Linked DNA regions of Homo sapiens: regions 2, 3 and 4 are each linked to region 1. The links come from fine-mapping of genetic effects on gene expression. A gene starts in region 1. Each other region holds a variant in brackets. All regions are shown on one strand. Distances are between the middles of the regions. Region 1 holds the start of SDHA (succinate dehydrogenase complex flavoprotein subunit A). Region 2 holds the start of LRRC14B (leucine rich repeat containing 14B). Region 3 overlaps PDCD6 (programmed cell death 6). Region 4 holds the start of AHRR (aryl hydrocarbon receptor repressor).

Region 1 (8,100 bases):
AGGGGGTTATGCTGAATGAAAAAAGTCAACCCGAAAGGTTATATACTGTTTGATTCCATTTACATAACATTCTTGAAATGACAAAGTTCTGGAGATGAAGAACAGATCAGTAGCTGCCGGGGGCTATGGAGGGAGGGGCGGTACACAGGGCAGCACGTGAGGCCCCAGGGATTGGGGTATCTTGACCGCATCCTGGCAGATGTCTTGGCTGTGACACTGCACTATCGTTTTGCAGATGCTTCCACTGGGGAAAGCTGGGTAGAGGGTACACGGGCTCTCTGCATTACTGATGACAACTGCATGTGATTTACATGACCCCAAAATAAAATATTTAATTAAAAGAAACTGAGTTGGGCCCAGTGAACTCAACCAGTCCCTTTCAGCTCTAAAACTATGTTTTCTGGGTCAGGGGAGGAAACAGGAGGTACAGGAACACTAGAGGGGAGAAAGCACGGAGAGATGGGAAAAGCACGGAGAGAGAGATGGGGAAAGGGCAATCAAGAAGACTGAGAGAAAAGGGGGGAAGCAGAATGACAGAGGAGGTGTGAAGAGAGAGAAGCCCTCTGGAGTGCTGAAATACTGAATATTCTCCCCTGGGAGCTACTCAGGGTAAGAATTTCTCCAGGGACTGCTCTTTCGGGCAAGCACAATTACACACATTTCTATGTTATGTTAAGTAAAAATCTAGTAAATGGGCTGGGCACGGTGGCTCACACCTGTAACCCCAGCACTTTGGGAGGCCGAGGCGGGCAGATCATGAGGTCAGGAGATCGAGACCATCCTGGCCAATGTGGTGAAACCCCGTCTCTACTAAAAATACAAAAATTAGCTGGACGTGGTGAGGGGCGCCTGTAATCCCAGCTACTCGGGAGGCTGAGGCAGGAGAATCACTAGAACCAGGGAGTCAGAGGTTGCAGCAAGCCGAGATCGCGCCACTGCACTCCAGCCTGGCGACAGGGCAAGACTCCGTCTCGAAAAAAAAAAAAAATTCTAGTAAATGAAGCGAGTGATCAGGACAAAACTAGCCTCTCATCAATAAATCAACCAATAGCGCTTATCAAGTATTCATATGTCTGCCTCTTCTTCTAGACTACACTAGGGGCTGGTTAACGCTCCTATGTGCAACAGAACCTCAAACACATCGTAACACACCTTTGGAGAATCCTTACAAGAACACCAACTTAACAGTTCTCTCTGACCACACTACCTCAGCAAAAAACCAGGAAGAAAAAAATATTCTTCAACCCTTTTCAGGGACAGAAAGCATCATTTCAAAAGTCCAAGAAGGGAAGGTAAGAATTTCAAAAGTGAAAGTTATCATGAAAGGCTATAAAAGCTGGAGATGAGTCTGAAAAACAAATGGAAAATGAGTCACTTCAGGGCCTCTCCCAGCCTCAAAGCCAATTAATTATTACATTAGTCAGAGTAATTTTAAGCCTTCCAATCCACTCACCCTAGCCACAGGCAACAGTAGCCTCTCCAAGTGTTAAGGGTTTTTTTTCCCAAGCCTGCAGGCGGATGAGCTTTTTACATGGCAGCCCCTTAGGATTGGATGTGGACCTGCCCTGTCTTTCACCAAGAAGCAAGCACTGCGCAGATCACTGAATCATAAAAACCACCTGCTCTTACCAGCCTCCTCTTCCTCTACAGCAAAACTTCTGACCTGAGACATGGAAGCAGATAAAAAGCCACTACACAAAATGTATCGCTACAACTAGAGGGCAGTTTTGCCTTTCTTCCATTCAATTATTCAGTTTCTCATGTTCCTAAGTGCCAGCCCAGAACCATGGAATGTGAAGAAACACAAAACTCACTCCTCTGCATCAGTGAATTGATTGTGTGGTGGGGATGTAAGTCTGCATATGACCGGCAGGTCCCCAAAGTGGTGCCAAGTCAATCTAAACTAGAGAGAATTTTTCTGGCCAGGCCAAGCAGAGATTTCATGGATGAAGTCTCCCAAAGACTGATTTCCTAAACATTAAACATCACTGGTTTTCCAAAACTGGTTTTCTTTTTTTTTTTTTTTAACCCTGTTGCTCGGGCTGGAGGGCAAGTGGTGCCATCTCCACTCACTGCAGCCTCGACCTCCCAGGCTCCACTGATCTTCCCACCTCAGCCTCCTGAGTAGCTGGGACTACAGGTGTGCACCGTCACGACTTGCTAATTTTTGTATTTTTTTGTAGAGACGGGGTTTTGCTGTGTTGCTCAGGCTGGTCACTCGATCTGCCCACCTGGGCCTCGCAGAGTGCTGGGGTTACAGGTATGAGCCACCACGCCCAGCCCACTGGTTTCCTTTACACCCGTTTTGTTCCCCAGCAGTCCTTATGAGGGCACCTGAAATAAGGAACCTCCTCCCCGACTTGAGAGCAGCAAAGCCTTCAGAGGGAACTAAGTTATTAAAACCCACCCCACACAAAATGCTTCTAAACGCCTTGGCTGACTTAATCCTTGCAGTGTGCTGAGGTTAAGTATGATTATCCATCTCCTGTGAACAGGAAGACTGAGGCTCAGAGCTTAAGTGATTTGCCCACGGTTCACTGCAGGGGATAAAACTCGGCTGTCCCTGGCAGGTCCCAAAGTCACGGCCTTCAGGCTCCCACACCATGCTGCCTCCCTCACCGGGGCTCCACACTCTCAGCCTGGAAAACACGAATTTTAAGAAAACCATGACTTACGAAAAGCAGCCAATCCCAGCATTGGAACCAACAGGGCATAATTCCACCTGCTTCCATCACCACCATCCGCCCTGGAATTAGGCCGGATATTCCAATTTGGGGGATCATTTAGGTTATTCATGGAGATATACCTTGAAGTAAAGAATAAAAACGTTAACTACTTTTATTCAAGAAATTTTTCTTCAGTTTTAACTATGTGCTTGCTGCACAGCACTGAGGCCCTACGGGATTCAAAGAAGAAAAAAACTAGACCAGAGCCGGGCATGGTGGCGGGCACCTGTAGTCCCAGCTACTCGGGAGGCTGAGGCAGGAGAATCGCTTGAACCTGGGAGGTGGAGGTTGCAGTGAGTCGAGGTCGCGCCACTGCACTCCAGCCTGGTGACAGAACGAGACTCCGTCCCCCCCAAAAAAAAAGAAAAAGAAAAAGGAAAAAAAAAACAAGAACTTAAGATGAAAGCGACTCACAATCTGGTTGGGGAAAGTGGAGAAAACAGACATGTCTTAAGCATCTGAAGTGCAGGTAGAATCAGGTAAGTTCTCTGGTACAAATATGTTTAAATGTATGGCTGCTGCGATGGTTAATTTTGTTTGTCAACTTGACGGCATCATGAGGTGCTCAGATACATGGTTAAGCATTATTTCTGGGCGTGTCTGTAAGGGTGTTTTTGGATGAGATTAGCAATTGAACCTTTAAACCAATTCCTCACGTCTCCCTTCTATTTGTTGTGTCTCTGGAGAACCCTCATACAGTTGTATCAAAGATACAGAATCAACTCGATAAAAGTGGGCTCACACCGGACACTTTCATATGAGCTAGGGTTTGAAGAGTGAGCAGCATTTTGACAGGCAGAGAAAGAAGGAAAGGGTCTTCTGATCAGAAGGAAGACTGTGAGGAAGGCAGGGAGGGGTGATGTGGGGAAGGTGCAAACAGTGCTAGAAGCTTCTGAGGCCTCCTCGTGGTGGTGATGAATGCAGAGATTACAGAGTTCTCTGCTTCGGGCTCAGCATGCACCCTCCATAGCTAGGCTGGGGGCTAACGTTAGTAAGAATTTACTGATTTACTGAGTACCTACACGAAGTTTCACATTTTCACAAAGTAGAGTCACTTTAAGTTTGTTTACATGTGACCTCCACAAACACACACAATTACAAAATAGTTTAGTTAATCAAGGGATGTATAATAAACAAGAGGTCGGAGGCCCCGGGCCGCTCCCGCCCACCTCCGCGGACGAGCGCCCCCCTCCGACCCCATTCCCTGCGGTCTGGGCGTTCAGGCCCTTCGGTCTGGGCGATCCCGGAGAACCACCCACGGGGCTTTAAAAATGTTGGTGCCCACCACCTCCCCGGAACAGGGCCCGCTCTACCTCGGTCGGGGAGCGCGGGACCTCAGCGTTCCCTTAACGCCACCGTCCGCGGGTCCGCTTTGCGCAGGCGCGGCGCCCCCACTCAGTACCCGCTCCGGGCGTGGCATGGTGCGCAGGCGCGATGTCCCCCACTGCAGCCCCGCTCGACTCCGGCGTGGTGCGCAGGCGCGGTATCCCCCCTCCCCCGCCAGCTCGACCCCGGTGTGGTGCGCAGGCGCAGTCTGCGCAGGGACTGGCGGGACTGCGCGGCGGCAACAGCAGACATGTCGGGGGTCCGGGGCCTGTCGCGGCTGCTGAGCGCTCGGCGCCTGGCGCTGGCCAAGGCGGTGAGTCCGTGCCGCGGACCGGGGCGGGGCAGGCGGGGGCCGAGGCGGCGGTAGGAGCGGGACGGTCCCCAGCGGGTCCGAGCGGAGCGGGCGCCGGGTCCCTGCGCCCTCTGTCCCGGGATCGGGAAGGGGCTGAGAGAGCCCTGGGCCGGTGCGAGGGGAAGCCGCGGGGCGGACTCGGGGACCCGGGGAGCTCGGTCCTTAGTAGATAGTCCGCGTCCGGGTGAAGGTCACAACCCCGCGGGCTTGCTGGGCGTCCCCTCCGCCGCCTTGGTCCGGGCCTGGGGTCCTGGGACCCCGCGGGCTGAGGTAGCCCCTCGCCTCAGTGCCTGGCAGGTGGACTCGGGGAGGAGTCGTGTCTGCCCAAGGTCACCCGGGCGGATAGCGGCCGGTGGCCGCCCTGGCTGGGCTGGGCCTCTGCCGCCCTCTGTGCGGGTTGTCCTGAGGAGCAGCCCGCAGCCCGTGGGTGGGGCCGGCGGGGCGGGTGAGACCGCCCGGGTGGGTGCGAGGAGTGGCCGGGCTCGGCCCGGTGGGCGTCCGGTGGGAAGCGTGGCGCGCCCGAGCTTAGGCTTGCAGTTCGCCTTTCCAGAAAGCGCAAATCTGTCCATGTCCACTTCGAGACCTTGTAAGTTAAGGGCTTCTACTTTGGGTCGTGTTTGGTGGTCCTTATGCCACCAAAAATGTGCCAGTGTTTAAAAGCAGCTGTGCCAGTTTTTAAAACTCAGGCGGAGAGCTCAGCGCACTGACCGGGCGAGGACGCCGGGACCTGTGCTTGCCTGTGCGCTGAGTGCCTCTAGGGCCGGGCTCGGCTTAGTCCAGGATGGTGGTCAGGGTTATACTTCCCTGAGCCCTTGCTCTCTGAGTGTCTGAATGTGCCCTCTACGATTGCATCTTAAGAATCGGCCTTCTAGGGTTTTATTTAATCAAGCTAAATTGGATAGGTTTAGTTGTTTGGTTCTTTTAAATGAACTTACCCACCCACCTCCTTAATTACAAAGTAATTTTAAATTGCAGAATAAAAATCTCAATAGGAACCAAGGCATTCAGCAATATTGATTTGAATTATGCCTGTAATTGTGCAATTTTCTCCTTTTTGAAATACTTATTAAAAATCTCGTTGAGTTAAATGTGAGGATTAGTCATACAGCCATCCTGCCAACATCAGAAAGCGTGTAAACCGTTCTAGTGTGTTGCTGTGGTTGGTACTGACTGAGCAGAGACCCCTGCCGCATCTTGGGCTTTTAAGAGCTGCTAGGAGGGCGTCCACAAGCAGGAAGGAAAGCCCATGGTCAGTGGGGCTTTTTAGGGGAAATGGTAGCTTGTGATTGGAGAAAAGCTAGAGCTAGTGCCTTTGTCCTCAACCCAGATGGTGCCCGGTGTTCCTTCTGCAGACTAAGACCCTGCCAGCGGCGGAGGCACCTCAGACGGGATGGCAAGATAGCAAAATTGAACCAAAATTTAGTCTTGGGTTTTGTAAAAGTCTTTTTATCTTGATGAAGTTAGCTTTTCCTACAGAAATTCTGCCTGCAAGCAGCATATTTATCGGCATTTCAGATAGGCTTTTTTTCCTGAAGAATTGGAGTTTACGAAGGAACAGCATAATCAAAAAATTAGCAGAAAAAAGAAAGAAATTCGTGATAGCCAACTGAGAAATGTGTTTGGAAAATAGATGCTGAGGATAATTTCAGTAAAGTCCAGAGAGAATTTTTTAACCTCATTTTGGCCAGTTCTGTGGTGTTTTGATCATTCTGTATTTACAACTGCTTTCAAGTGACGAACTTATCAGACTTATTTTGCTTTTGGTTTCTTTTTATGGCCCAGTGCACTGACACAGCTTGCAAACTGTTCGAAAGCAGTTTAATCAGAGGAAAAAGAAAACCAAGAAACTTCAATAGTTACTGGTTAACTGCTTACTTCAGGTGAAGTTTTTCAAATCCCTTAACATGAACATCCAATATATTGTTCTAGGACAAATTGATTTCTTTTCTTTGAATGGATTGTTCTGAATATGTTTAATGGTGTTCTAGAAATACATTATTTAGGCCATTATAGTAGTAAACCTTTGCTTTGCTTCTTGGGATAATTGTAACAACAATGGCATTCCATTCTGCATTCCTCATGATGTTTTTCCTGATTTATTTGAAAAATTGTGACTTGTTTTTTGATATGAAACCTGGATATTAATATTAGTTGGGAGTCTCAGAGATTTTTCCCAAGGGTCTTTAGATAGGGGGGCAAGTCCAGGATCCAGAGCCAGGCCGGCCGACTTGAATCCTCTCTGAGCTCCGTCTTTCCGTGGGGTTAGTGAGGATTCTGTGGGTAATGTTTGAAACCTTTGGTGATGCTCTTGAGAACCAGGGCTCACAGCCTATGCACAGTAACCATGTGTGAACTGAATTTTTTTTTTTTTTTGAGACAGAGTCTCACTCTGTCACCCAGGCTGGAGTGCAGTGGCGCAATCTCGGCTCACTGCAAGCTCTGCCTCCCGAGTTCACGCCATTCTCCTGCCTCAGCCTCCTGAGTAGCTGGGACTACAGGCACCTGCCATCATGCCCGGCTAATTTTTTTGTGTTTTTAGTAGAGACGGGGTTTCACCATGTTAGCCAGAATGGTCTCCATCTCCTGACCTCGTGATCCGCCCGCCTCGGTCTCCCAAAGGGCTGGGATTACAGGTGTGAGCCACCACGCCCGGCCGAACTGTATTTTAAGTATCCCTGTTTTTAAAATAATAAACACTAAAATTCTAGTGAGAATAATTACACGCAGTTGTAAAAGAATCAATGAGTATACCCTCCCTCACCCAGTTCATTTTCCATGAAAGCAATTCCTGTTTCTGATACTGACTCCTGGCATTTGTAATACCTCTGTTTCTTTAGCGGATATGCAGGTGCATTTTTATCAGTTTTAGACTTCTTGCCTAGAGAGGGGATTTAGTTCACTTAAACTACCCTGCTTCCGCTTCTTCCTGATACAGTCGTGCGTTTTTAGGTTCTTCGTTGGCTGCTTTTGTGATTGTGTAGGTTGTACATGCAGATTAGTTTCTTGCTCGTGATTTATAGGTGCGTTGTATTAGATGAGGACCCCTTACTTTGCTAGATTTCGGATATGAATGTCTCTGCACTTCTTACTTTTCCCCTCCACCTCCTAATTCAGTCATCTGAAATTCTGTATTGTTAAGCAAGGTCTAAGTATTCCTTTTAGTTATATGTTCCCCATTTTTTTTCTTGAGGAAATGTTTGATAGTTTCTCCTAAAAAAATTAACAATTGGCACAAAAGACTAGTTTTGTGTCAAAACTAGTTTTGAGTTTTATCTAAAGACTGAAATTGGCTTAAAGTTGGGCTTTCCAAATTCAAAAATCTGCCCCAGATTAGATTTAGATTGAGAGGGTTAGTGTCCTTTTCGCCAGGGGGATGGCGTGATAATTTGTTCAAGATTGTGTTATAGTAGCTGCCCCTTTTAAGCCAGCTCTGTGTGTGTGTGGTGGGGGGTGGGCAGTGGGTCTTCCACATCAACATCCTAGAAAGAACGAATAAACATTGAGTGATCTCACTGTTTCTACTTACATTTGGTATAATATACTGTTCTTACTGGTGCTATTACTATGTTAATAGGGCACTTTACAACATTTTCAAGAACATTTGTATTAAAATTATTTCAAAGACTTCTTTCTTAAAATATGATTTTACCATGCAAAAATTTTACTAAGGTAGAAGAATATTTGTTCTTTCTCATT
Region 2 (8,080 bases), 27 kb before region 1:
AGATGTCATCCCCTTGAGGACAGCAGGGAGGCGACTCAGGAGAGGCTGATCAGACGGGAGCCGCATCCCCATCACCTTCCAGAGAGACCTCTTCTTTTGCCAGGTGTCGTGAGGGCTGTGGCTTAGCTGGGCCTGCGTCCATCCCCGGTTCTGGGGAGATGCCCGGGCCCCTCCTGGATGGCAGCAGCAGTGGAGGTTTGGGTTTTGAGGGAGCCCTAAGAACCTGAGAGACTTAGATGGAGCATGGCACGCCCTGGAGAGTCCACGTCCCCAGACCCCTCATGCCAACACCATTCCACCCAGCAGTTTCTTCCCTGTGGTCAGAACAAAACCCCCAAGCCTCAGGCCTCAGGCTGGTTTTCTGACAGGCAAAATGCTCCTTACATAAGGAAAGACCTTTCCTTGGCTGACCCTAAAGTAGCCAAGGGGAGCTCACATCGCCTGGCCTGCCGCCACCACCAGGCTGCCTGACCAGCTCACCGCCTTGTTCTAGATGCTTCTGAAGCAACAGCTCGCCTGGCCCCACCCCCATCAAGCATCTGCTGGGCAGCCTCCCTCCCCGGCCCGCCTGTAGCTCCCAAAGGTCTCAAGCCTCAACATCCTGGTAACCAAGTGCACCCAGAGGGCTGGCAGGGTCACATGGAGGCAGGGGACCCTTGGCCCCAGGGTGGTCGTCTTCCCAGGAGGTCCGCCTGTCAGGTCAGAGGGCAGCAGGAGGCCACCCCACCTCCCCGGGTTCCCTCGAGCATTCCTTTGTCAGGAGCAGCTCCCCCAGGATCCAGGCATCCCTGGCCCCCCTTTGCCCCCGCCCTGCTCTCAGGAGCCCCCTGCCAGGTGCTCTGACCACAGGAAACAGGAGCCCTCAGGGCCACTGCCAGAGGACGGATTCTGCTGCCAACCAGAGGTCCTGGGGCTGGCGGCGCTGGTGTGCCTGCCCTGGGCCTTCAGCAGCCCCCATAAGGAGAAAGCTCCAGCCTCCCGTTCAGAGAAGGCTCCATCCTGGGGACACGCCTCTCCCAAGGTCACCCACGTGGGGGCTTTGTTACTCATGCTTCCCAGACTGCGTGCTGTGTCAGAGTTTTCACACCTGCCTGATGTCCTGGGGGGGCTCACAGAGGACCGACCCTGCAGGGAGATGCTGACCCACCCTGAGACCCAGGAGAAGAAAACGGCCAGGGTCCAGGCTGCTCCCACCATCCCTGGGGGATTAGCACCTTGGCTGAGCCCGAACTGACCACCTGGGGCGTAGGTCCAAGATTTAATTACAAAACGATAGGTGAATGTGGGTTCTGTGTGCCTGTGACATAGAGAATGTTTTCCACACCGCGTGTGAAATGACGAGAGCTTTTGTGTCACACATGTAGCTGCTACGAGACAGACGCTCTTGTTCCGGATCAGAGCAGCAGACAGAACCGGCACTTTTAGGGTCCAAACCCTGTTGCCCACAGAACGCCCATGACACCAGCTGGGTGGAGCTGCCGCCGAGTCCACGCCCCGTCTGGCTGGGACCTGGAGCTCCCCTCAAGCTGCAGATCCACTCTGCACCACAAGGTGGCCTCGCAGAGGAGCCTCCCGAGCTTTGGAACCAGAGGCAGGCTCAGCGATGCTCTCCATCCGGCCTGGCCCCACCGTGTGTATCAGGTGTCAGAGGCCTTGCTGGGTGCCAGGCCACGTCTGTGCTGTCACAGCTTTGAGGGGCCAGCGGGTCCTAGGGAGAGGCCCGTGCGACGTGAGTAACAGCAGTTTTTCTTCTGACAGCTGGGATGGAGGTGGGTCCTCCAGGGAGTGCCCCAGTCCTCGAGAGCCAGACTTGTGCACGGGCCTGGAAATGAAGGTCTCAGGCAGGGGCTGCGCACACCGATGGTCAGCATTGCCGTTCGGGGCCTGCAGTCGCCCATAATGGGCCCTGCCCCCTAGGCCTGGCCTCTTTTGCTTTCCTCCTGGATGGTTCCTCTACCCCTGGTCCAGCAGGGACTCAGCAGTGCCTGCCAGCTGCAGACCCCCATGCTCCTGCAGCCTGGAACCCTCCTGCCCTCCAAAGGTCATGGGGTGACCCAGGGTGGGAACACCAGACCCCCTCACCCCGTGTCCACCGCCCATGGCCGGGCTCACAGTGTCTCAGAGCCGTGGTGAGCCATCCTAGGACCAGTGTACCTCACAACCTTTCAGACCAGTGAAGGCCAGTGGGCTGGGTGGTCCAGGCATGTCCCCAACGCAGGTCCAGCCATCTCTGCACAGAACTGGAATCTCGGTTCATTTCGGTTTCAGCAGGTCCCATGTAGTTAGCAGGACAGCACTTGAGTTAGGTCTGAGAAAGAACGCCTGTTTGTCATGGCATTTCCTGTAAGGAGCCCAGAGCCGTGGCCCCAGGTTGGGACGGCGGCGCCAGAGCTGGGCCTGAGTCTGACCCAACCTGTGCTGAGTGGTCCTGCTGGAATGGGAACCCCAAGAGGACCACCCCTCTCTAAAAGAAGGGAAAACAGTAAGCGAGAGGGAGGCTGCAGGGGCCCAGACCTTGGCTGACCTTCCTAGCCATGGTCTCCACCCTCCGAGACCCAGGGGCCCCGCAGTGACAGCAGGGTGTTGGGCCACACAGAGCCCGAGTAGGTAAAGGAAGGTTCTGGAAACCACTTTTCAGAACCCAAAAGGTGTCTGGGAAATGGCGTTACCTGCCACTGTTGTTAAGTGTTTACTTTGTATCAATACTGAATTGTTAAAAATTTTAATCATAAAAACCAATGGAACATGTTTTTCTACTGTGTCCTTCGAGATTCTCTTATCTGGTCCTGGAAAGGGGCCGTGTGTCTGGGGAAACCTCTTGTGCACCTCATGAGGGGAGCCCGGGGGCCCACATCGGCTGGCCGAGGGCGGCCACCCCTGAAGGGTGGGGTCAGGGCCCACCCACCTCTTCACACACACCTCCGCCTGCTGGACAGTGCCTGGGCCCCACAACGGAGCACAGTCCCTTCTGCATGGGTCGCCTCCCGGGGAGAGGCATTGCTCAGGCTCAGGGAACAAACTGGGGAGGGTCAGACAGGGAGGCTGGTGGGGCACCCATGACCAGCACCCTCCAAGCTTGCTCAGCAGCCTTCCCCCTCCCACTGCTGTTTCTCTTTCTGTCTCCC[CGT/C]CTGTCTGTCTTTCTCAGTCTCTGTCTCTGCCTACCAGTCTCTCTCTCTCTCTCTTAGTCTCTGTCTCTCCCTTTCTGTCTCTCTCTCAGTCTGTCTCTTTCTGTTTCCCTTTCTCTCTCCCTCAGTCTCTGTCTCTCTCCCTCTTAGTTTCTGTCCCTCTGTCTCTGTCTCAGTCTCCGTCACTCACTTCTCTCAGTCTCCCTCAGCCTCTGTCTCATGGCCGTGACCCTCCAAAGCCCATGGACACGTGGTGCCCTGTAGTGATGTGTGCAGTGATGTGTGCAGCGATGTGTGCTGACCCTGCCCTGAGTGGCAGTGTCACGGGGAGAGGTGAGTGCAGCACCCATCAGCTGTCCAACACGGTCAGTGCTGGGAGTGAACCATCAGGCACCGCCCCCCAACACAGGTGTATCCCATTCCCTGCAGCTTTCCCTGCCGCACAGGCGGCAGGGTTGCAGACAGGACACTGCAGCTCAGAGAGAGCTGGGGGCTCATCCGAGGCCATCAGGGAGGCTCCACCTCTCCCAGCCACTCTCTCCCATGGAAAGTAGGGAAGCCACCCCCGCCGGGTCCTTGGGGAGAAGGAAAGGCACAGGGAAGGGGCAAAACAGCAGCTCCATTCCTGGCCACTCGTCTCACCCCAGATGCGAGGCGAAGTGTGGGAGCGGCCCCAGAGGCCACTGTGGAAAGGGAACTGGTTACCGAGTGAGGCGCAGGGGCCTGGCCTGTTCTCTGCCCCGTTGACTGGTGGGGGAGGTGCCCAGAGCTGGGCAGTAGCCCCGCTTGGATGGTAAACAGGACCTGCCCGCTGGCCTCACCGGCCGCCAGCACGAACGCCTGCCAAGACTGGCTTTCTGCAGCATGGAGCACAGGCTTCTCTGCCCAGCCCTGCCATGGGCACGGGCTGCCTTTCTGTGTCGGCTGGGTGCCTGAGCCAAGCAGCTCCCAACGGCTGGGTGCCTGAGCCAAGCAGCTCCCAACGGCTGGGTGCCTGAGCCAAGCAGCTCCCAACGGCTGCGTGCCCCGAGGCCGGGCAGACGCAGGTGTCCCAGGACCAAAATAGCAGTCAGATGATCATAAGGCCCCGTGGCAGGGCCCCCAGGGCAGGCTGCTCACAGCTGCTGCAGCTAAAGATAGGCGTGAAGGGCACACGCCTTGGGGAAAGTCGTGGGGAGCGGTCCTGTCTCGGGCCATGGACACAATGAGGTCACTCCGCTTCATTTCTGCAGAAGCTCTGGTGTCCCACCCCCAGGTGGCCCGGCAGAGCCTGGACAGCGTGGCCCACAACCTCTACCCACTCCTGTTCAAAGCCAGCTACCTGCTGGAGCAGGCGGAGGTGACGCGCGCGGTGCTGGGGCGCTGGCCCCTGGAGGAGTTCCGGCTGGGAGCGCTGCTGGGTCCTGGTGCCGACCACCCCCAGGACCTGCGCGACAGAACCTGCAGGGCCTGCCTGGAGGCGCTGGTGCGCGGCCTCGCGGACCACGTGCTGCAGGACCGGAGCCGCCGGCGGCTGCGGGTGGCTGACCTCACGGGCATCCGAGATGTGCAGGTGCAGCGGTGCCCGTGCGGGAGGGCGCTGGGCAGGTGGGGCCGCACCCAGCTGCTGGCCAGGACCTGCTGTGAGCTGCAGGCAGAGCCCCTCGCAGCCGGGCGCCCCGTCGAGGTCCTCGCCGACCTCTTCGTCACTGAGGGCAACTTCGAGGCGGTGGTGCAGGCTCTGAGGCCAGCGGGCCCGGCCCCTCTGCGGGTGCACTGCCCCTCGTTCCGGGCGGACAGCCTGAGCCCCAGCCAGCTCCTGCACGTGCTGCGTCTGGCTGGCCCGGGTGCCCTGCGCAAGCTGGAGGTGGTGCACAACGTGCGGCTGCATGCGGGCCACGTGCAGCAGCTTCTGGCCCAGGTGGGCTTCCCCCGGCTGGCCTCGCTCACCCTGCCCACCAAGGCCTTTGATGCACCCCCCACCTACGCCTCCACTCCCGACGGCGAGGACCCCCTCCTCGCCTCCATCGCCCGGGAGCTCAGCAAGATGGCGCAGCTCACTGAGCTCAGTGTGGCCTTCTCCACGCTGACCGGGAAGATCCCGACGCTGCTTGGGTGAGTCTTGGGGAGGGGACTGAGGGCGGGCTGGTGGCTGCAGAGGCAAGGAGAGATCGTCCAGGGGCCTGCTCATGTCCAAGGCCATGAGGCTACACGGCCTCCAGCCTCTCACTCCGGGTGTGGCCACAGCCACAGGACAGCGGCCCCGCCAAGGGGCAAGAGCACCGAAAGTCAGAGCCACCAGGAAAGAAGCGGGCTGCCATGTGTGACTTAGGGATGTGGAGAGAATGCCAGTTAAAAAAAGAGAATACGGAAATTACCAAACAGACGAAACAGAAGTGCCTACGTGGTGTGAGGAGTTGTCTATTGTTGATGAACGACTCACCCCAACACTTGGGGGCTTCAAACAGCAAACACGATTTCAGCTCAGAAATCTGAGCCTGTCGGTGCCTTTGGCTCAGGGCTGCTGTTGGCCAAGGGTGCCATCTCATCCGAAGGCCTGACAGGGCGGGATCCTCCCAGTCTCCCTCGAGGGAGGCCTGGGCTCCATGCTGCATGGACCTCCCCATGGTGGGACAGGAGGCTTATGCAGGATCCTCTCAGCAGATCTGCGTGAAGGAGGCAGAGAGGGCAGCAGCTAGGAAGGGGCCAGGCCAAGGCAGCCTCAGGCAGTGGTGAGGGGGATGCCCGGCGGTGGGTCCAAGGGGGGTGCCCAGCAGTGGATCCTGGAGGGGGAGTGCCTAGCGGTGGGTCCAAGGGGGGTGCCCAGTGATGGGTCCTGGGGAACGGGGTGCCTGGCAATGGGTGCTGGGAGGGAGCCTGGTGGTGGGTCCTGAAGGAGGGGCAGCTGGCGGTGGGTATTGGGGTCACCGGGTGATGGGTCCTGGTGGGGCAACCTAGCGGTGGGTCCGGGGGGCACCCAGTTTTGGGTCCTGGGGGTGGGACCTGGCAGTGGGTCTAGGGGGAAGGGGTGCCTGGTAGGTACTGGGGAAGCACCTAGAGGTGGGTCCTCAGGTGCTGGGGGGTGCCTGGCGGTGGGTTCTGGGGGCTGGGGGCACATGGCAGTGGGTCCTGGTGGGGCGTTTGGCAGTGGGTTTTGGGGAGAAGTGCCTGGCGGTGGTAGGGGTGCCTGGTGGTGGGTCCTGAAGTGGGGGCACCTGGTGGTGAGTCCTGGGGTGGGGGGTGGCTGGCTGTGGGTCCTGGGGTGGCACCAGGCAGTAGATCCTGGTGGGGGATGCCTGGCGGTGGGTCCTGAAGGATGGGGGTGCCCTGCGGTGGGTCCTGAGGGATAGAGGTGCCCTGCGGTGGGACCTTGGGCAGGGGGCATGCCTGGCGTGGTTTCTCAGGTGGGACAGGGGCACCTGGCAGTGGTCCCAGTCCTGGGTGGGGAGGGACATGTCCTGGGCGGGACATGCAGGTGGGTGCAGGTGCAGGTGGGTGAAGAGTGAGGCAGCCTCCTAAGGAGAGGGTTGGGATGGGGCAGACCCCAGCTGTGTCCCCCGGCTCAGCGAGGACAGTGAGGCCATGTCCCGATGCAGTTCTGCTCTGGAGATCTCCCTTAGCTCAGAACCAGAGTAGGTCTCACTCCAACTGCCCCTGTATTAGAGCTAGGCTGCCCTACACCAACCAAGTCAGAATATGGGATGTGGGGCAAGTTGGGGGGTCTTTAGGGTTCCCAGGTGAGTCAAAGGCTGTACTGGAAGCCTCCATGGCCCTTCCCAGCTCTGAAACCATGCGGGATTCATCTTTGTCAGAGTGGAGCGGCACTGTCCTGTGGTCTCACTGCCCCCCGCCGTCTGCTTTCTGAGCAGACATTCTGTCCTGTGGTCTCACTGCCCCCCGCCGTCTGCTTTCTGAGCTGACATTCTGTCCTGTGGTCTCACTGCCCCACCCCGTCCACTTTCTGAGTGGACGTTCTCGTGGTCACATGCATCACTTTTCTCAGACAACACAAAAGCAGCTGTTGACAAAACAAACTTACCATTTAGGTGCTGAGGACAAAAGCCAGACCTCTGGGTATAGCTGACTTCACCACGTGGCGGCCGGCAGTCATGGCCAACACTAAGCGAATGCACGTGGTTGTGCTCTGGTAAAATGTTATTTATGGACACCGAGTTTGAATATCATGTAACTTTTCACGTTTCACAAACTATTATATAAATATAACAACCACTCCTAGCTCATAGGCTGTATGAAATTAGGCGGTGGTTGGACGTGACTGTGTGTTGACCCCATGATGGACAAATGGGTTGTTCCCATTCGCCTGAGCCCTCGGCTCCTTCCTGGGACCCTCCTCTCACCTGTGCTCTTTCCCCCGTGTCCTGCAGCCCCCTACAGACCCCGCTGCGAGTACTGGACCTGGCCAACTGTGCCCTGAACCACACGGACATGGCCTTCTTGGCAGACTGTGCCCACGCTGCCCACCTGGAGGTGCTGGACCTCAGTGGACACAACCTGGTCAGCCTGTACCCCTCGACCTTCTTCAGGCTGCTCAGCCAGGCTTCCCGGACGCTGAGGATCCTGACACTGGAGGAGTGTGGCATCGTAGACAGCCACGTTGGCATGCTGATCCTGGGCCTGAGCCCCTGCCACCGGCTGCGCCAGCTCAAGTTCCTCGGGAACCCGCTGTCGGCCCGCGCCCTCCGGCGCCTCTTCACCGCACTCTGTGAGCTCCCCGAGCTGCGCTGCATTGAGTTCCCGGTGCCCAAGGACTGCTACCCCGAGGGTGCCGCCTACCCACAGGACGAGCTGGCCATGTCCAAGTTCAACCAGCAGAAATACGACGAGATCGCCGAGGAGCTGCGTGCCGTGCTGCTGCGGGCTGACCGAGAGGACATCCAAGTCTCCACACCTCTCTTTGGAAGTTTTGACCCAGACATTCAAGAAACAAGCAATGAGCTTGGTGCTTTCTTGCTGCA
Region 3 (8,100 bases), 78 kb after region 1:
CTGAGGACTGTGTTTTGTTGGGAACGTTCTTGGGCGTTTCTTTTGTACACAAGTGCAAGTTGCTTCTGGTCAGTAGCTTTCAAGTTTTAAAATTTCATCCCAGGTAAGAAATGTAACTTTCCTCATAACCCACAACATACTCTTTCATATACAAGCATAACAAAAATAGACTTCACAACCGTTCTTAGCAGGGCGTGGTGTTCCTGCTTCTCTCCATTCTCCCCAACACTGGCATGGATTGGGTTGTTGGTGGTGGGATTTTTGCCCATCTGGTGGGTGTCACGTGATATCTCCCACTGTTAGGCTGAGCCCCTCTTCATGTTTTCATTAGCCATTCCTCCACATTTCCTCTTCTGTGGAGGGCCAGTTCAGCTCTTTTCCCCAGTTTCTGTTAAGTTGTTTGAATTTTTGCACTTTTCTTTTATTATTCCTATTGTTATGTTTTTGAGACAGAGTCTCACTCTGTTGCCCAGGCTGGAATGCAGTGGTGTGATCTCAGCTCACTGCAACCTCCACCTTCTGGGTTCAAGTGATTCTCCTGCCTCAGCCTCCCAAGTAGCTGGGATTACAGGCGCCCGCCACCACCCCTGGCTAATTTTTGTATTTTTACTAGAGATGGGGTTTCACCATGTTGTCCAGACTGGTCTGAAACTCCTGACCTCAGGTGATTCTCCCACCTCAGCCTCCCAAAGTGCTGGGATTACAGGCATGAGCCACCATGCCTGGCCTGCCTTTTTCTTTTTCAAAAGGACTCTTTATACCTGTTCATTCCGGTGACTATCTGTATGGCAAAGATGGGTTTGAATCCACCAGGATAAATGTGCAGGATCTCCTCTCTGGTGGGAGAAGAGACAGAGAGGGATAGAAGGGTATGGAGAACAGAGCCGAGAGGAGGCCGAGTCAGGCAGGGGTGGCAGGCTGCTGTGAGGACTTGGCTCCGTCTCTGAGTCGGGTGGGGATTAGCAGAGGATTTAAACAGAGGAACCATGGGATCTCCCTTATGCATTTCTGCCATGGTTGGCTCAGCTGAACGCACCTCTTGAACAAGACTTGGCCTTGGACACCTAGAGGCCCTTGGTTGAGGGTTTACCTCCTGGCGTGGCCACTGACACATCCACGTTTGGCTCCCACACAGCTGGGCGGCCCCAAGACCTGCTCTGCCTGGGCTTCTCATTGGTGGCATTTCTCAAGTTTGTCCCCTCTCAAGTCTGCACCATCCGGAAAACCAAACACCTCTCTCTCCTACATGGAAACCCCCATCAGCACCTCCCCCTGACTCACAGGGCATCCCGTCAACATCACAGTCCCGACTTTCCCATATGGACAAGCCCACAGGACCCCCTGATGGACCAGGACAGCGCCAGCACTAAGACATGCCCTGAAACTCACAGGAAGACCTGATCAAGAAGACGGGAACAGCACAGGGCACTGGGAGCTGCAAACACCCACGATACTGTCAGAGATGGAGAAAGGTATGACAGGAAGAGCAGATCAAGAAGACGGGAACAGCACGAGGCACTGGGAGCTGCAAACGCCTGCGATAATGTCAGAGATGGAGAAAGGTATGACAGGAAGAGCAGATCAAGAAGACGGGAACAGCACGAGGCACTGGGAGCTGCAAACGCCCGCGATACTGTCAGAGATGGAGAAAGGTATGACAGGAAGAGCAGATCAAGAAGACGGGAACAGCACGAGGCACTGGGAGCTGCAAACGCCCGCGATACTGTCAGAGACGGAGAAAGGTATGACAGGAAGAGCAGATCAAGAAGACGGGAACAGCACGAGGCACTGGGAGCTGCAAACGCCCGCGATACTGTCAGAGACGGAGAAAGGTATGACAGGAAGAGCAGATCAAGAAGACGGGAACAGCACGAGGCACTGGGAGCTGCAAACGCCCGCGATACTGTCAGAGACGGAGAAAGGTATGACAGGAAGAGCAGATCAAGAAGACGGGAACAGCACGAGGCACTGGGAGCTGCAAACGCCCGCGATACTGTCAGAGACGGAGAAAGGTATGACAGGAAGAGCAGATCAAGAAGACGGGAACAGCACGAGGCACTGGGAGCTGCAAACGCCCGCGATACTGTCAGAGACGGAGAAAGGTATGACAGGAAGAGCAGATCAAGAAGACGGGAACAGCACGAGGCACTGGGAGCTGCAAACGCCCGCGATACTGTCAGAGACGGAGAAAGGTATGGCCATGGCTGACACAAAATGTTACTCAACATTTATCACAGGCCTAAATGGAGAACATAACGCTATAAAACCCTTAGATAAAAACACAGGAAAATTTGTATGGCCTGGGGTTGGGCGAAAAGTTCTTAGACATGACACCAAAAGCATGATTCATAAAAGATTGACAAATTAAATTGTCATAAATTTAAAATTATAATGCTATAAAGCAATATAAAAATCTAAAGAGAATGAAACACAAACCATGGTCTAGAAATAAACATTTGTGAATCACACGTCTCACAACGTACTGGCACGCAGGATATGTGAAGAACCATCAAAACTTAACCATAAGAAAGTAAAAGCCCCAGTATTAAAGAGAGGGCAGATATTGGAACAGAGGCCTCATCAAAGAAGGTATAAGGAGGGCATATTGCCCGAGAAAGAGGCTCAACGTCGTAGAGATGCTGGAGAAATGCCAGTCAACAGTACCTCTGCAAATCTATTAAAATGGCTAAAAACAGACAAAAACCACAGGCCGACCCAGGTTCTAGTGATGATGCAGAGGAACTGGGACCCTCATAAGCTGCAGTGGGAATGGGAGGGGTCCCGCCATGCTGGAAAGTGGTCCGGGAGTTTCTTACGAAGTTAAGCACATCCTTACCCTGTCATCCAGCAACCCCGCTCCTGAAACGTCCCCCAAGAGAAAACTTAAACGTGCATGCACAAACCTGCACACAAGTGTTTAGGCCTCATTCCTCATTGCCAATAACTGGAAGAAAACAAAATGTCCATCGGCAGGAGGAGGCGGGAACCAACGCGGATGCTTCCACACAGGGGGCACCAACCAGCAGTGGAAGGATGCACCCAAATGCCCCAGGTCTCCCAGGCCACATGCCCAGTGAAGGAAGCTAGTTTCGGTGC[G/T]CACAGGCCGAGGGATGCCGCCACGTGACATCTTGGAGAAGACAGTGCTACCGTGTTGGGGAGCAGGGCAGTGGTTTCGAGGGGCTACGGGTGGAGGGGCGAATGGAGGAGCTCTCTGGGGCGGTGGCGTGAGCACCTGCACCTCACTGTGGGCTGCTGCGGCTGAGGGGCTGTACAGCAAACACTAGCTTCAGTACACGCAGACTGAAGGAGGAAGGCTGCCACAAGTCAAAGACAGAGGGTGTCACCTCCATGAAACAAAAACATATTAAAAAAAACTCTTAAAATAAAAAAACCACAAAAAGTATTTCATAAGCGTATTGGACTTTGAGTTGACATCATCTACCTGGGAGCATGGAACTGAAACCACAGGCTTGGCAATCCCAGAGGGAGAGAGTGGAGGGTTTAGACCTCCATTGAAGGGCTCAGTACCTGGCTATAGGAAATAACATTTAAAAAGCGGCAGGGTGGAAATAATTTCTGCTGATGAGGTTGCATTTCTCCAGATAACCGGCAGAGTAAATTAAAGCAATATAGTAAAACAATGCACATATTGATGGAATCTCAGGATCACAAGGTTGTGGTGAAGGAAATTTGAAGATGTCCAGGAAAGAAAGACAAATGAGATGAATCTTGCAGCTGCCCTTCAAGGGGGCATGGGCCGGGTGGCCATGATTCTCCGTGATGTTGCAGGAATTCTGGCTGGGTCCTCAGGAGCCTTTTTTTTCTTGTCCACATTCACCTTCGGTGGGTGGTCCCTGGTGGTCATGACCGCACTCAGGGCCCGGGGCCTGCTGAGGCTGCTCTCCCTGTTCCCGGAATGCAGGGGTTTGTTCCAGATCCCGCTGCTCTCCACACAGAAAGCCAATCACTAAGACGATAGTTACTGCCAATGAAGAAGGCATGCATCAGAAGCTACAGGCCAGGAGATGGGAGGTCAGCTTCAAATCCATCTTCCTGACTGACTATATAGCAGGGAAGAAGTGTGACTGTGTGTAAGGAAAACAGGAATTAGGGAGAGTGAGGAAGAGGAGTTGGTCAGGAGGAGGCAGGTGGCTGGTCAGGCACTCATGATGGGTGAGGGGTTTGGCGTCTTACTGTCCAGATGGCGTGATCTGGTGAGTCTCTCTTCCTTCACACTACCTGGGAGGCCTGATGGTCAGTTTCCTAAGAAAGGAACTCAAATAAGACAAATGTCACTTTCTCAAGTTTTAAGACCAAAAGGATCCATTTCTATGTTATTCAGAGAAACCATGAACATCAATTCTCTGGGACAATCAGGCCAGTTCAACACCAGATCTGATCGGCCACGACACCTGCTGCTCGACCCTCAGATAAGGCCCAGAATCCAGTGTCCTCTCCCCCACCCCAGCCTGGCCCCACACCCACACCTCCCCACTTCACCCTGGGCCTCTGCTCTCTCGCCACAGAGGGGTCAGGGAGCTGTTCACGCCCCACGTGCACCTGGGCACGTGGCATATTTCAGATGCACCTGGTGTCACTGTTTGCACAGACCTAAGTGGGAAGAGATCCAAATGCTCGTTCACTGCAGGTGGATGAGGACATCCCAGCAAGTCCCTCAGTGGAGTCAGCCAGTGCAAGGCGAGTGAGGGACCCCCAGAGACATGAATGGGTCTCAGATAGTGTGTGAGTGGATGAAGCAGCAAAAACACACGCTGCTAATTAATTGATTTATGTCGAGCTCAAAGTAGTCCACATCAAAAAGACTGTTTGGGGCTGCAGGAATTCAGTGGATAATTGCAGGCAAGGCAAGGGAAGGTGGACCAGAAAGGTGAGGAGGACGCTCCCTTCGAGGGTGGAGAGAGTAAGACTGGCATTGCACATGGGTGGGGGGGCCCGTCGAGGCCCCTCTTTGCTTCTGAGAGTCTGTTTTCATCGACAGTCTTCTACTAAATGTACATAGCAGCTTTTCAGGGCAAGGGTCACCGGGATTCGTCTTTATGCCTCCCCAGCCCGGGAGCCACCACCTCCACCAGACCCATCCACACAGTTGAATCTCATCTCAAGTTCTCTGGTGCCCGACCCCCCACGCACACCGTGCTGGTCTGGGCATCTCACCTGCATCCGCACAAGTGCCTCAGGAGGGTGGAGTGTCTGGTGCTCGGCGCTGGAGGCTCAGCCCACACTGTGCCGGGCAGTCGCAGGCCTCCCAGATGAATGAAGCATGAATGAATCCCGATCCTGTTATCACAGCTTCTCCCCACGCATCCCAGGCAGAATGTTGTGCAAAAACCACACCAGGATTCGTACATGCCAGAGGACTGAACTTCTGCGTGTTGCAGATAATTCATCTTCCTGAATCACTGTGGATCTACCATGTGGTTAACCACGGAATAAACATGGGGGAGAGCGTAAGCGCTGTCCTAGCAGAAACTTATGCTTCTTCCGTTACCCTTAAAAAGTAAAGGGTACGGATTTCATAATTGTGTTTCTCTTGTAAATGAGACTCTCATGGAAAAATCAGCCATGTAGGCGATAGATTTGTATACCTTTAGATTAAAATGTCACTTCGATTATTTCAAGTGTAAAAGTGTTTCAGCTTTTTTGAGGTATAATTGCTACACAAAGAGCTGCACACATTTCATGTGTGCACTTTGGTGAGACTTGACCTGAGCAAACACCCATGAAACCATCACCAAATCAAAGCAATCGAGGAATTCCACACTTGCTGGGGGCTTCCTTGCACCTGTGCCCGTGGTGAGAACACAGCACGAGATCTTCCCTCTCAGCCAATCGCAAACGGCCCACAAGAAAATGACACCAGGCCTCCTGGTGAACACACACCCTGTGATTTAATTGTTGATCTTTTTAACCTGGGGCTCACATTCTTCATTCAGAATATGGCAAAGACTTTAGAAGTCATCCAAAGTATCAGTAATTTGAAGTCCTTTAATACAAAAAGTATAGAATATGACCTTTTGTCACATAGCAATAGGGAAATGAAAAAAGAAAATCGACTTATGTTCTTTAATGGCTAGGAAAATATTCTTAAAAAGAGATCTCAAGCACAGGTGAATCTAACAAATGACAAATTTATTTCTTTACATAGATAAATATAAGGTTAGATCCACGTAAATAAATGAAGCCATTAAGGGTAGAGTCCCACAGACCACAGCGTCCAGCTCTGCTATCGATATCAGGGAGTAATTTCCAGGCACACAGAACTGACCCAGCATCCAGCTCTGCTCATGATTTCAGGGGTAATTCCCAGGCACGGGTCGAGCTGGAGAAGCTGGGGGCCCCCATAGCCCCACTGTCCTTCCTGCCTCATGGGGTCTCTGAGGGGTGCCTGGAACATTTCCTCTTGGGCTTTGAAGATCATTTCACTTAAACACATTTTCCAGGTGCCATGGACCTGAGCCCAGAAACTTCACGGTACCAGGACCACCCGAGACAGTGGCTCCCCAGGAGTGAGCACCAGGCACTGTCAGGGGTTCTCTCCCCAGCACATTTACAAGGACATGATGGGTTCTTCTTCCTGCAGAGCAATCCCAGTGGGAAGAAGGAGGGGACGGGAGGCCTGGCAAACTCTCCTCCCCAGCTCCGTTCCAAGCTCTGTGGGGCTCCGGCAGGCCCCATGTCATGTGCAGATGAGGGATTAGGGTTCCTCCCGGCCTCGCTGCTCTCAGGCCCTCAAGGGCTCCTCTCACCACCCCCGTGCAGCCAGCGGACCCTGCCCCCACCCAGCTGCTCCCCCCAGCTGCTCCCACTCAGCTGCTCCCACTCAGCTGCTCCCACTCAGCTGCTCCCACTCAGCTGCTCCCACCCAGCTGCTCCCACCCAGCTGCTCCCCCCAGCTGCTCACCCCCAACTGCTCCCCCCCAGCTGCTCCCCCCCAGCTGCTCCCCCAGCTGCTCCCCCCTAGCTGCTCCCCCCCAGCTGCTCCCCCGCAGCTGCTCCCCCCAGCTGCTCCCCCAGCTGCTCCCACTCAGCTGTTCTCACCCAGCTGCTCTCACCCAGCTGTTCCCCCCAGCTGCTCCCCCTCAGCTACTCCCACCCAGCTGCTCCCCACTAGCTGCTCCCCCCAGCTACTCCCACCCAGCTGCTCCCCACTAGCTGCTCCTCCCCAGCTGCTCCCCCCCAGCCGCTCCCCCCAGCTGCTCCCCCCAGCTGCTCCCCCCCAGCTGTTCTCACCCAGCTGCTCCCCCCCAGCTGCTCCCCCCCAGCTGCTCCCCCCCAGCTGCTCTCACCCAGCTGCTCCCCCCCAACTGCTCCCCCCAGCTGTTCTCACCCAGTTGCTCCCCACAAGCTGTTCCCCCCAGCTGCTCCCCCCAGCTGTTCCCCCTCCGCTGCTCCCCCCCAGCTGTTCCCCCCCAGCTGTTCTCAGGTTTCTCATCCTTCCTGGATGACGCCCTACCTGGGGCACCCGTTCCTGTGGCATCCCCAGTCCTGCACTGCAGCACTCAAACCCCGTCACCTCCCTGGCGAGACCATGCTGGAACCGTGATCAGCCCATCGGTTTCATCCATTATCCTCCTAGCCCAATTTCTGTGCTGATCTCTCGTTCCCAAAACATCTTGGAATTATAAGAAATTAACTTTTTTCAAGTCTCTGTGCTTCTGAAGCTGTACTTTTAAGAAATAATTCTTACGTTCTTTTGAAGGTTTTTTTTTTTTCTTTAAGACAGAGTCTCACTTTGTCGCCCAGGCTGGAGTCCAGTGGTGCAATCTCAGCTCACTGCAAGCTCCACCTCCCGGGTTCACGCCATTCTCCTGCCTCAGCCCCCCGAGTAGCTGGGACTACAGGCACACGCCGCCATGCCTGGCTAATTTTTTGTATTTTTAGTAGAGATGGGGTTTCACCATATTAGCCAGGATGGTCTCGATCTCCTCACCTGGTGATCCGCCCGCCTTGGCCTCCCAAAGTGCTGGGATTACAGGCGCCAGCCACCGCGCCCAGCTGGTATTTTTTTTTTTATTTTTTTATCAAATACAGTTGAGGCTCTCTTGGAGATCACATATTAAAGAGAACTGAGAAAAATCA
Region 4 (8,100 bases), 110 kb after region 1:
ACACGCTCTCCTCACTTTACCTGTTCGGGTCTACACCGCCCGGCTCTAGGGCCGGCAGCTCAGCACAGCCGGCCGCGAGCGCTGGGGAGGGGACGGGGGCGCAGGGAGAACCGGGGGACCCTGGGCGCACACAGACCCCAGGGGGAACGCAGGGCCTGGAGGGGCTCAGCGCGCGACCCCCGCCTCGGGGCACGGAGACTCCGGGGGATCACTGGGACGCGAAGGGCGCAGGGCGGACCCCAGGGGAACCGGATGGCGTCTCCGGTTCGCCAGGGCAGCTGGGGCAGCCGGACCCGAGACAGCCGGACCCGCGGGCGCCCTCTGCCGCCTCCCGGCCCTGGATGCTGCGGGGCGGGGCGGGCGGCTCGCGTGCCGGGGTGGGGCAGTCCCTGGAGCCGCCGCGGGTTCCCGGGATGCGAGCGCCGGCACCCGCCGCCACAGCTCCTGGCCAGGGCGCGCTGCCCCGCGGGTGTGCCTGAGCCTCCGCGCCCCGCAGGCCCTGGGTAAGTGTCCTGGGCGCCCCCGCAGGCCCCCGCCGCGTGCCGCCCGCGGTGGAGACGGGATGCGCTCCCGGGTGTGGGGCTGAGGGACGGGCGCCGGCGTCGGGACCCTCCTCACGCCGCATCCTCGCGTCGCCAGGCCCGGCGGCCCCGGGACGGGGCGGACACTCTGGGGTGCGGCTGGCTGGTCTCACTTAAAACTCGGACCTCGGAGGGAAGCCGCGGCGCGTCCACGGTTCGTGGTCCTCAGCGTCCCCTCGAGAGTGTTCTGAGCCTTCACTCCCCGGGCGTTCCGTGCGGGCCGCGCTCCCTGGGGCTGGGCGGGTGCGGGCGGCGGAGCGGGGCCCCGCTGTCGGGCCGAGGGCGCCAGGTCCGGGGGGCCTCACCCCCGGGAAAGGCCCATGTTCAGGCTTGGTTTCAGTAGCACCCAGTAGCGCTGAAGTCTTATTTTGAGCGGCCAGAATTCCCAGACCGGATGCCCTGAGAGAGCGATGTGGCGCCTGGAGTCCACGCTGGGACCCCTTCTGGGGAGGGGTCGCCATGGGCGCGTGACAGGCAGGGGCCACCCTCTGACCTCTTCTGCGAGGCCGGAGGTCAGAGACCTTGTGCAGAAGCGTCCCACGGGCCTGTCCCACGGGCCTGTCCGGCTGTGGCCTCCGGGATGGCAAGGGCAGGCGGGGAGGGGCTTCCTCCCTGGGCCTCCTGTGCGCGCGCACAGGCTCTCGTCTGCGGGGTTCTTGCAGAAGGGTGGGCGTGTGCGCGCGTTCTCCAAACGCCACCCCCACGGGGCCTCACAGCCGCCCCGGCCTGGCAACCGTCACCCATTTTACGAACGAGGACATCAAGGTAGGTCGCTCATCCAGCCTCTCAGAGCAAGTGACTGGCGGCGTTTGGACTCGGGCCGAGTGTGCCATACCCATCCCGCACAAAGCCGGGGCTCGATGCGGCCCCAGAGTCGCTGAAAAGCCACGAGTAACAAGAACTGGAGAACGTAGGATGCTGACCCGGCGGACGCCGCCGCCTGGGGAGCCGCTTCGACGGGGGGGACGCCACCGCCTGGGGAACGGCTTTTATTTTCGTTTTCTTACTTATCTGTATTCTCTAAAATGAACAGACACGAGTTTTACCACGGGAGAAAGGTTCTTAGAAAAATTCAGATTTCTCAGAGGAGTGCTGTCAGCTCACAGCCTGGTGGGGTTGGGAGGCCCCAGATGGCCCTGGCCGACCCCTCTGTCCCGTGTGGGACCTGCCCGTGAGCAGCACCCAGGAGTCTGTCGAGGCCCCACCCGTGGTCCCCGGCTGAGCCCCTGGCTGCAGTGGGTAGGGTCCTCCCCTGTCCCCCAATTACCTATGAGGCAGCTTCGACCTGTGTCCCAGGCAGAGAAGAACGCTGCCGTCAGGAGGCCGGGGACAGCTGAGTCTTGCCTCACAGGGGCATTTCTGTGGGGAGTTTGGTCCAGTCCAAAGGAGGCTCCATCTGTTGAGGTGAGTTCATGAGTATTTTGTAAAATGGAACAACCTATTGTAATAGCATCCCTCCTCCTGTATTTAGGCTAGGTATGGCAAGAACTGAGACACACTTCCCTGCCACCCCCTCGCATCTCTGCCAGTAGGGCCAGGAAGTTCAGATATGCTCAGGTGACCACCTGAACTCCGCGAGGCTTTTCTCTAAAGTATTATCAGCAACTGTTTCTCAAACTACTTTATCTTGATCCTTGTGCCAAATTATTTATTTCCTGCAACTGTGAGGCCCCTCCTTCATGTGGCCTGGTGTTCCCGGGAGCAGGCCTTGTGATCAGAGGGAGACGGCTTGTGGCTTAACAGGGTCTTCCCACCTCGTTCACCCGTGCTGGGTGCTGAGACGCCGGGGGAGGGGGAGGCAGCTGTGGTTCCAGCCGTCGTCATTTGCAATGCAGTTGGAGAGATGCCGCCGGGTGGCCCTGACCAGTGTTAAGTGGTTAATACGACACAGAAGCGGGAAAGCGCCATGTGGTCTGGGGTGATCAGGCATTGAAGGAGACTCAACGGAGCTCCTTGCGGAGGAGAGTCGGCTCACAGACAGGCAGGAATGAACAGGCCGATCTGCTAGGGGCTGATGACTCGGGTAGGAAAGACTTGGCGGCCCTGAAACACCTTGCCTAGCTCGCTCTTCCTTCCCTCCTTCCTTCCTACCTTCCTTTCTTTTTTTCTCTTTCTTTCTTTCTTTCTCTCTCTCTCTCTGTCTCTCTTTCTCTCTCTCTCTCTTTCTTTCCTTTTCTTTCGAGACAGAGTCTTGTTCTGTCACCCAGGCTGGAGTGCAATGGCGCTTTCTTGGCTCACTGCAACCTCTGCCTCCCAGGTTCAAGCAATTCTCCTGCCTCAGCCTCCCAAGTAGCTGGGACTACAGGTGTGAGCCACCACACTTGGCTAATTTTTGTATTTTTGGTAGAGACAGGGTTTCACTGTCTCTACTAAATGTTGGCCAGGCTGGTCTCGAACTCCTGACGTCATGCTCTCCCCACCTCGGCCTCCCAAAGTGCTGGGATTACAGACATGAGCCACCACGCCCAGCCGCCTAGCTGTTTCAATGCGATGAGTTATAGCCAAAGGTGCTTCCACTTGGAATTTTTTTTTTAATAAAAATATATTCATTTATATAAAAAAATTAAAAAAAAAAAGAACTGAGGCACAAGCAAAACCTGAAACTGGGCCAGGTGTGGTGGCTCACACCTATAATCCCAGCACCTTGGGAGGCTGAGGCGGGTGGATCACCTGAGGTCGGGAGTTCGAGACCAGCCTGACCAACATGGAGAAATCCTGTCTTTACTTAAAAAAATACAAAAATTAGCCGGGTGTGGTGGCCTATGCCTGTAATCCCAGCTACTCGAGAGGCTGAGGCAGGAGAATTGCTTGAACCTGGGAGGTGGAGGTTGTGGTGAGCCAAAGTC[A/G]CACCATTGCACTCCAGCCTGGGCAACAAGAGTGAAACTCCGTCTCAAAAAAACAAAAACAAAAAACGAAAAACCCAAAACTGGTTATTCAGGGGGCACTGGCTGTGGGGAGGGGGTAGGCAGGCCAGCTCCTTGGATTTCCTCGGGGCCCCTCCCCCACACCGCCCACAGGGAATATTTATCTGCTTCTGGTGATTTTTACCAGAACCCTTGATTTTAGAACCGTTCCACAGCACTGAGCTGGAGACACCTGGGAGAACGTGGCTTTGCCCAGGCGTTGCAGGGCGAGTAGTCACTGGTATGTGAGGCTGAGGAGGGCAACGAGGCTTCCGTCTCAATTCCGGCTACTCGGAAGGGAGTTTGGGATTTTGGGGACAAGAAGGATCTGCACTAGCCCCACCTCTGACAACATCCCCTGCCCCGCTTCATCTTCCCAGCTGTCCCACCACCCCCCGACCCGCTCTTGCCCTGTGGCTCTGCACTCATTTGGGGACGAGGGTTGGTCAGGCTGGTGGTGCCTGGGCTCAGGGTCTTCTGGGGCTGGTGTAGGTCACCCTATCCCCTTTACCTTCCTTGACCTCAAGGGGTGGTCGAGTGGGTTTGCTCTATGCCCGGCCCACCTTGGGGTGCTGGGAACCGTCTCTGGCCTGTTCTCCCCACCAGACTGGGGCCAGGCTTGGGTGCGGCTTGGGAGTTTCCTGTTTGAGTCGAAAGGCCTTGCAGTTCTGATGGGATGTCCTTGCAGGCTGGCCTCCAGCCACCAAGTGCCCAACCTGGTTTCTGGGAGAAGTGCACTGGGCCAGACACGTGACCATGATGGAGACGAGGCTGGGCATCCCACAGCACCTCGGGGGGAGGGCTGGACCCTTCCGAAGCATCCGTCCCACCCTCCGCACCACCTCCACCCACCCACCGGCATCTGTCCCTGCTCCAATCTGCCATTTGCTTTCTTTCTTAACATTCCACATATTTTGCTTATATTTATTTGTAAATTTGTGTCCTATGTGTTACATGGTGTTTGTTTTTTGTTTCTTGTTTTCTTTCTTTTCTTTTTTTGAGATGGAGTCCAGCTCTTGTTGCCCAGGCTGGAGTGCAGTGGCGTGATCTTGGCTTACTTCTACCTCCACCTCCTGGGTTCAAGCGATTCTCCTGCCTTAGCCTCCCGAGTAGCTGGGATTACAGGCACCAGCCACCACGCCTGGCTAATTTTTGTATTTTTAGTAGAGACGGGGTTTCGCCATGTTGGCCAGGCTGGTCTTGAACTCCTGACCTCAGGCGATTCCCCTGCCTCAGCCTCCCTAAGTGCTGGGATTACAGGCGTGAGCCACTGCGGCCGGCCTCTTTGTATTTTCTCGTTGAGGCAAAATGCACATAACATCAAACTAACCATTTAAAAGTGAACAGTTCAGGGGCATTTAGTACATTGACGAAGTTGTGCAGCCACTGCCTCTCTCTAGCTCCAAAACCTCTTCATCGCCTCCGGCAGTGCTCACCCACCAGGCAGTCACTCCCCAGTCCCTGCTCCCAGGTCCTGGCCACCACGAACCTTTTTATCTGAGTTTGCCTACTCAGGATATATCATGCAATGGGGTCAGTGTGTGTCCTTCTGTGTCCAGCTTCTTTCACGCATCACAGCGTTTTTAGGGTCCATCCATGTGGCAGCACGTGCCAGGGCTTCCTTCCTTTTCATGGCTGAATAATATTTCATCTTATGAAGATACCACATTCTGTTTACTGATCCCTCAGCTGATGGACATTTAGGTTGTTTACATTTTTTGGCTACTGTGAATTATGATGGGCATTTGTATGCAGGTTTCTGTTAGAACAAATGCTTTTACTTCTGTTAGGTGTGTACCTAGGAGTGGAGTTACTGGATCATATAGTGATTCTGTGTTTAACTTTTTGAGGAAACACCACACTTTTCCACAGCAGGTGCACCATTTTACATTTTCACCAGCAATGCACCAGAAACAGTTCCAATTTCTCCATAGCCCCACTGACCCTTGTTATGTTCCATTAAAAAAAATGATAGCTGGCCCGGCGCATGGTTCACGCCTGTAATCCCTGCACTTTGGGAGGCTGAGGCAGGCGGATCACTTGAGGTCGGGAGTTCGAGACCAGCCTGACCAATATGGTGAAACCCCATCTCTACCAAAAATACAAAAATTAGCCAGGCGTGGTGGCACGCGCCTGTAGTCCCAGCTACTCAGGAGGCTGAGGCAGGAGAATCTCTTGAACCCAGGAGGTGGAGGTTGCAGTGAGCTGAGATTGAGCCATTGCACTCCAGCCATGGCAACAGAGCGAGACTCTGTCTCAACAACAACGGCAACAGCAACAAGAAGCCATCCTAGTCGTATAAATGGTATTGAATTATGGATTTTTGTTTACTTGCATTTCCCTAATGATTTACAGGGCTGAGCATGTTTTCATGCGTTGAACATTGTGTATCTTCTTTGGAGAAATGTCTCCTCAAGTCCTTTGCCCATTTTTTAAATTGTACACATTTATGGGTTCATGTGTAATTTTGTTACATGCATAGATTGCATAGTGATCAAGTCAAAGTTTTTAGGGCGCCCATTACCCAAATAATGTACATTGTACTCCTTAACTAAAATCTCATCAGCCGGGCCCTTGTCACCCCCTCACCCTTCCAGGTCTCTGTCATCCATCATTCCACTCACTACGTCCGTGTGTATACAAATTCAGCACCTACTTGTGAGTGAGAACACGTGACATTTGACTTTCTGTGCCTGGCTTGTTTCGCTTAATGACCTCCAGTTCCATCCATGTTGCTGCAAAAGACATGATTTCATTCTTTTTTTATGGCTGAATAATATTCAATTGTGTATATATACCACATTTTCTTTTGATTAATCCACTGATGGGAACTTAGGTTTATTCCATCTCTTTGCGATTGTGAATAGTGCTGCAATAAACATATGAGTGCAGGCGTCTTTTTGATATATTGATTTCTTTTCCATTGGGTATAGACCTAGTAGTGGGACTGCTGGATTAAATAGCAGTTCTATTTTATTTTATTTTATTTTATTATTACTATACTTTAAGTTCTAGGGTACATGTGCACAACGTGCAGGTTTGTTACATATGTATACATGTGCCATGTTGGTGTGCTGCACCCATTAACTCGTCATTTAGCATTAGGTATATCTCCTAATGCTATCCCTCCCCGCTCCCCCTACCCTACAACAGTCCCCAGAGTGTGATGTTCCCCTCCCTGTGTCCATGCGTTCTCATTGTTCAATTCCCACCTATGAGTGAGAACATGCGGTGTTTGTTTTTTTGTCCTTGTGATAGTTTGCTGAGAATGATGGTTTCCAGTTTCATCCATGTCCCTACAAAGGACATGAACTCATCATTTTTGATGGCTGTGGCAGTTCTATTTTTGATTCTTTGAGAAATCTCCATGCTGTTTTCCATAGAGGCTGTACTAGTTTACATTCCCGCCAATAGTGTATGAGTTCCCTTTTCTCTGCATCCTCACCAACATCTGATTTTTTTTTTTTTTTTTTTTTTTTTTTTTTGAGACAGAGTCTCCCTCTGTCGCCCAGGCTGGAGTGCAGTGGTGCAATCTCAGCTCACTGCAACCTCTGCCTCCTGGGTTCAAGCAATTCTCCTGCCTCAGCCTCAGAGGCACCCATCACCATGCCAGCTAATTTTTGTATTTCTAGTAGAGATGCAGTTTCACCATGTTGGTCAGGCTGGTCTCCAACCCCTGACCTCAAGTGATCCACCCACCTCGGCCTCCCAAAGTTCTGGGATTACAGGCATGAGCCACTGCACCTGGCCGTCTTTTTAATAATAGCCATTCTGACTGGTGTAAGATGATATCTCATTGTTGTTTTATTTTGCATTTCTCTGATGATTAGTGATGTGGGGTATTTTTTCATATACCTGTTGGCCATTTGTATCTCTTCTTTTAAAAACTGTCTATTCATGTCCTTTGCTTACTTTTTAATGGGATCACTTGGGTTTTTTTGTTGTTGCCATCGTTCAATTGTTTGAGTTCCTCGTATATTCTGGTTACTACTCCCCTGTTGGATGAATAGTTTGCAAATATTTTCTCCCGTTTAACAGGTTATATTGTCACTCTGTTTATTATTTCTTTTGCTGTGCAGAAGGTTTTTAGTTTAAGACCCATACTATAGTCTGTGGTGTAATTTGAAATCATGTAGTGATATGGTTAGGTTTTGTGTCCCCACCCAAATCTCATCCTGAATTATAATCCTCAGGTGTTTAGGGAGAGACCTGGTGGGAAGTGATTGGATTATGGGGGCAGTTTCCTCCATGCTGTTCTCATGACAGTGAGTGAATTCTCATAAGATCTGATGGTTTGATAAATGGTAGTTTTTCCTGCGCTGACACACACACCTCTGTCTTTTTTGGTCCTTATGAATTTTAGGATTATTTTTCTTTTTCTCTTTTCTTCTCCTCCTCCTTCTTCTCTCTTTTTTGCTTCGAGATGGGATCTTGCTTTGTCACCCAGGCTAGAGTGCATTGGCGCATAGCTCACTGCAACCTCGAATTCCTGGGCCCAAGAGATTGTCTGGCCTCTGCCTCCTGAGTAACTGGACTATGGGTGTGTGCCACCATGCCTGACTAATTTTAAATTAAAATATGTTTTTGTAGAGATGAGGTCTCACTGTGTTGTTCAG

Evidence for each region.
Region 2: its variant is fine-mapped to the expression of SDHA in whole blood (INTERVAL, PIP above 0.99).
Region 3: its variant is fine-mapped to the expression of SDHA in whole blood (INTERVAL, PIP 0.98).
Region 4: its variant is fine-mapped to the expression of SDHA in whole blood (TOPMed, PIP 0.93).

Annotation. Positions count from the first base shown.
Region 1 is chr5:214,054-222,153 of GRCh38, forward strand. SDHA (succinate dehydrogenase complex flavoprotein subunit A) reads left to right here and starts at 4,267. Exons shown (of 15, transcript NM_004168.4): 1 at 4,267-4,365. The coding sequence starts at 4,303. CCDC127 (coiled-coil domain containing 127) reads right to left here and starts at 4,100. Exons shown (of 3, transcript NM_145265.3): 1 at 4,040-4,100; 2 at 2,676-2,806. The coding sequence starts at 2,796. RefSeq lists silencers at 4,078-4,407, 4,638-4,877 and an enhancer at 4,277-5,085.
Region 2 is chr5:187,219-195,298 of GRCh38, forward strand. It overlaps PLEKHG4B (pleckstrin homology and RhoGEF domain containing G4B), which reads left to right. Exons shown (of 20, transcript NM_052909.5): 20 at 1-2,748. LRRC14B (leucine rich repeat containing 14B) reads left to right here and starts at 4,277. Exons shown (of 2, transcript NM_001080478.3): 1 at 4,277-5,219; 2 at 7,490-8,080. The coding sequence starts at 4,321. LOC124900929 (a long non-coding RNA gene) reads right to left here and starts at 7,509. Exons shown (of 2, transcript XR_007058670.1): 1 at 7,144-7,509; 2 at 5,510-5,770. RefSeq lists enhancers at 1,257-1,436, 1,396-1,690, 1,737-1,876, 3,942-3,991. The variant CGT/C (reference allele first, on the strand shown) is at 3,126.
Region 3 is chr5:291,831-299,930 of GRCh38, forward strand. The region is part of intron 2 of PDCD6 (programmed cell death 6); the gene reads left to right. All of the region lies in intron 2 of PDCD6-AHRR (PDCD6-AHRR readthrough (NMD candidate)), which reads left to right. Among named protein-coding and RNA genes, the nearest start is that of PDCD6-AHRR, 24 kb to the left of the region's middle. RefSeq lists a silencer at 3,177-3,347 and enhancers at 4,649-5,177, 5,178-5,706. The variant G/T (reference allele first, on the strand shown) is at 3,097.
Region 4 is chr5:321,317-329,416 of GRCh38, forward strand. It overlaps AHRR (aryl hydrocarbon receptor repressor), which reads left to right and starts at 398. Exons shown (of 11, transcript NM_001377236.1): 1 at 398-503. The region is part of intron 3 of PDCD6-AHRR (PDCD6-AHRR readthrough (NMD candidate)); the gene reads left to right. RefSeq lists silencers at 20-509, 600-979, 990-1,049 and enhancers at 634-1,201, 1,290-1,409. The variant A/G (reference allele first, on the strand shown) is at 3,428.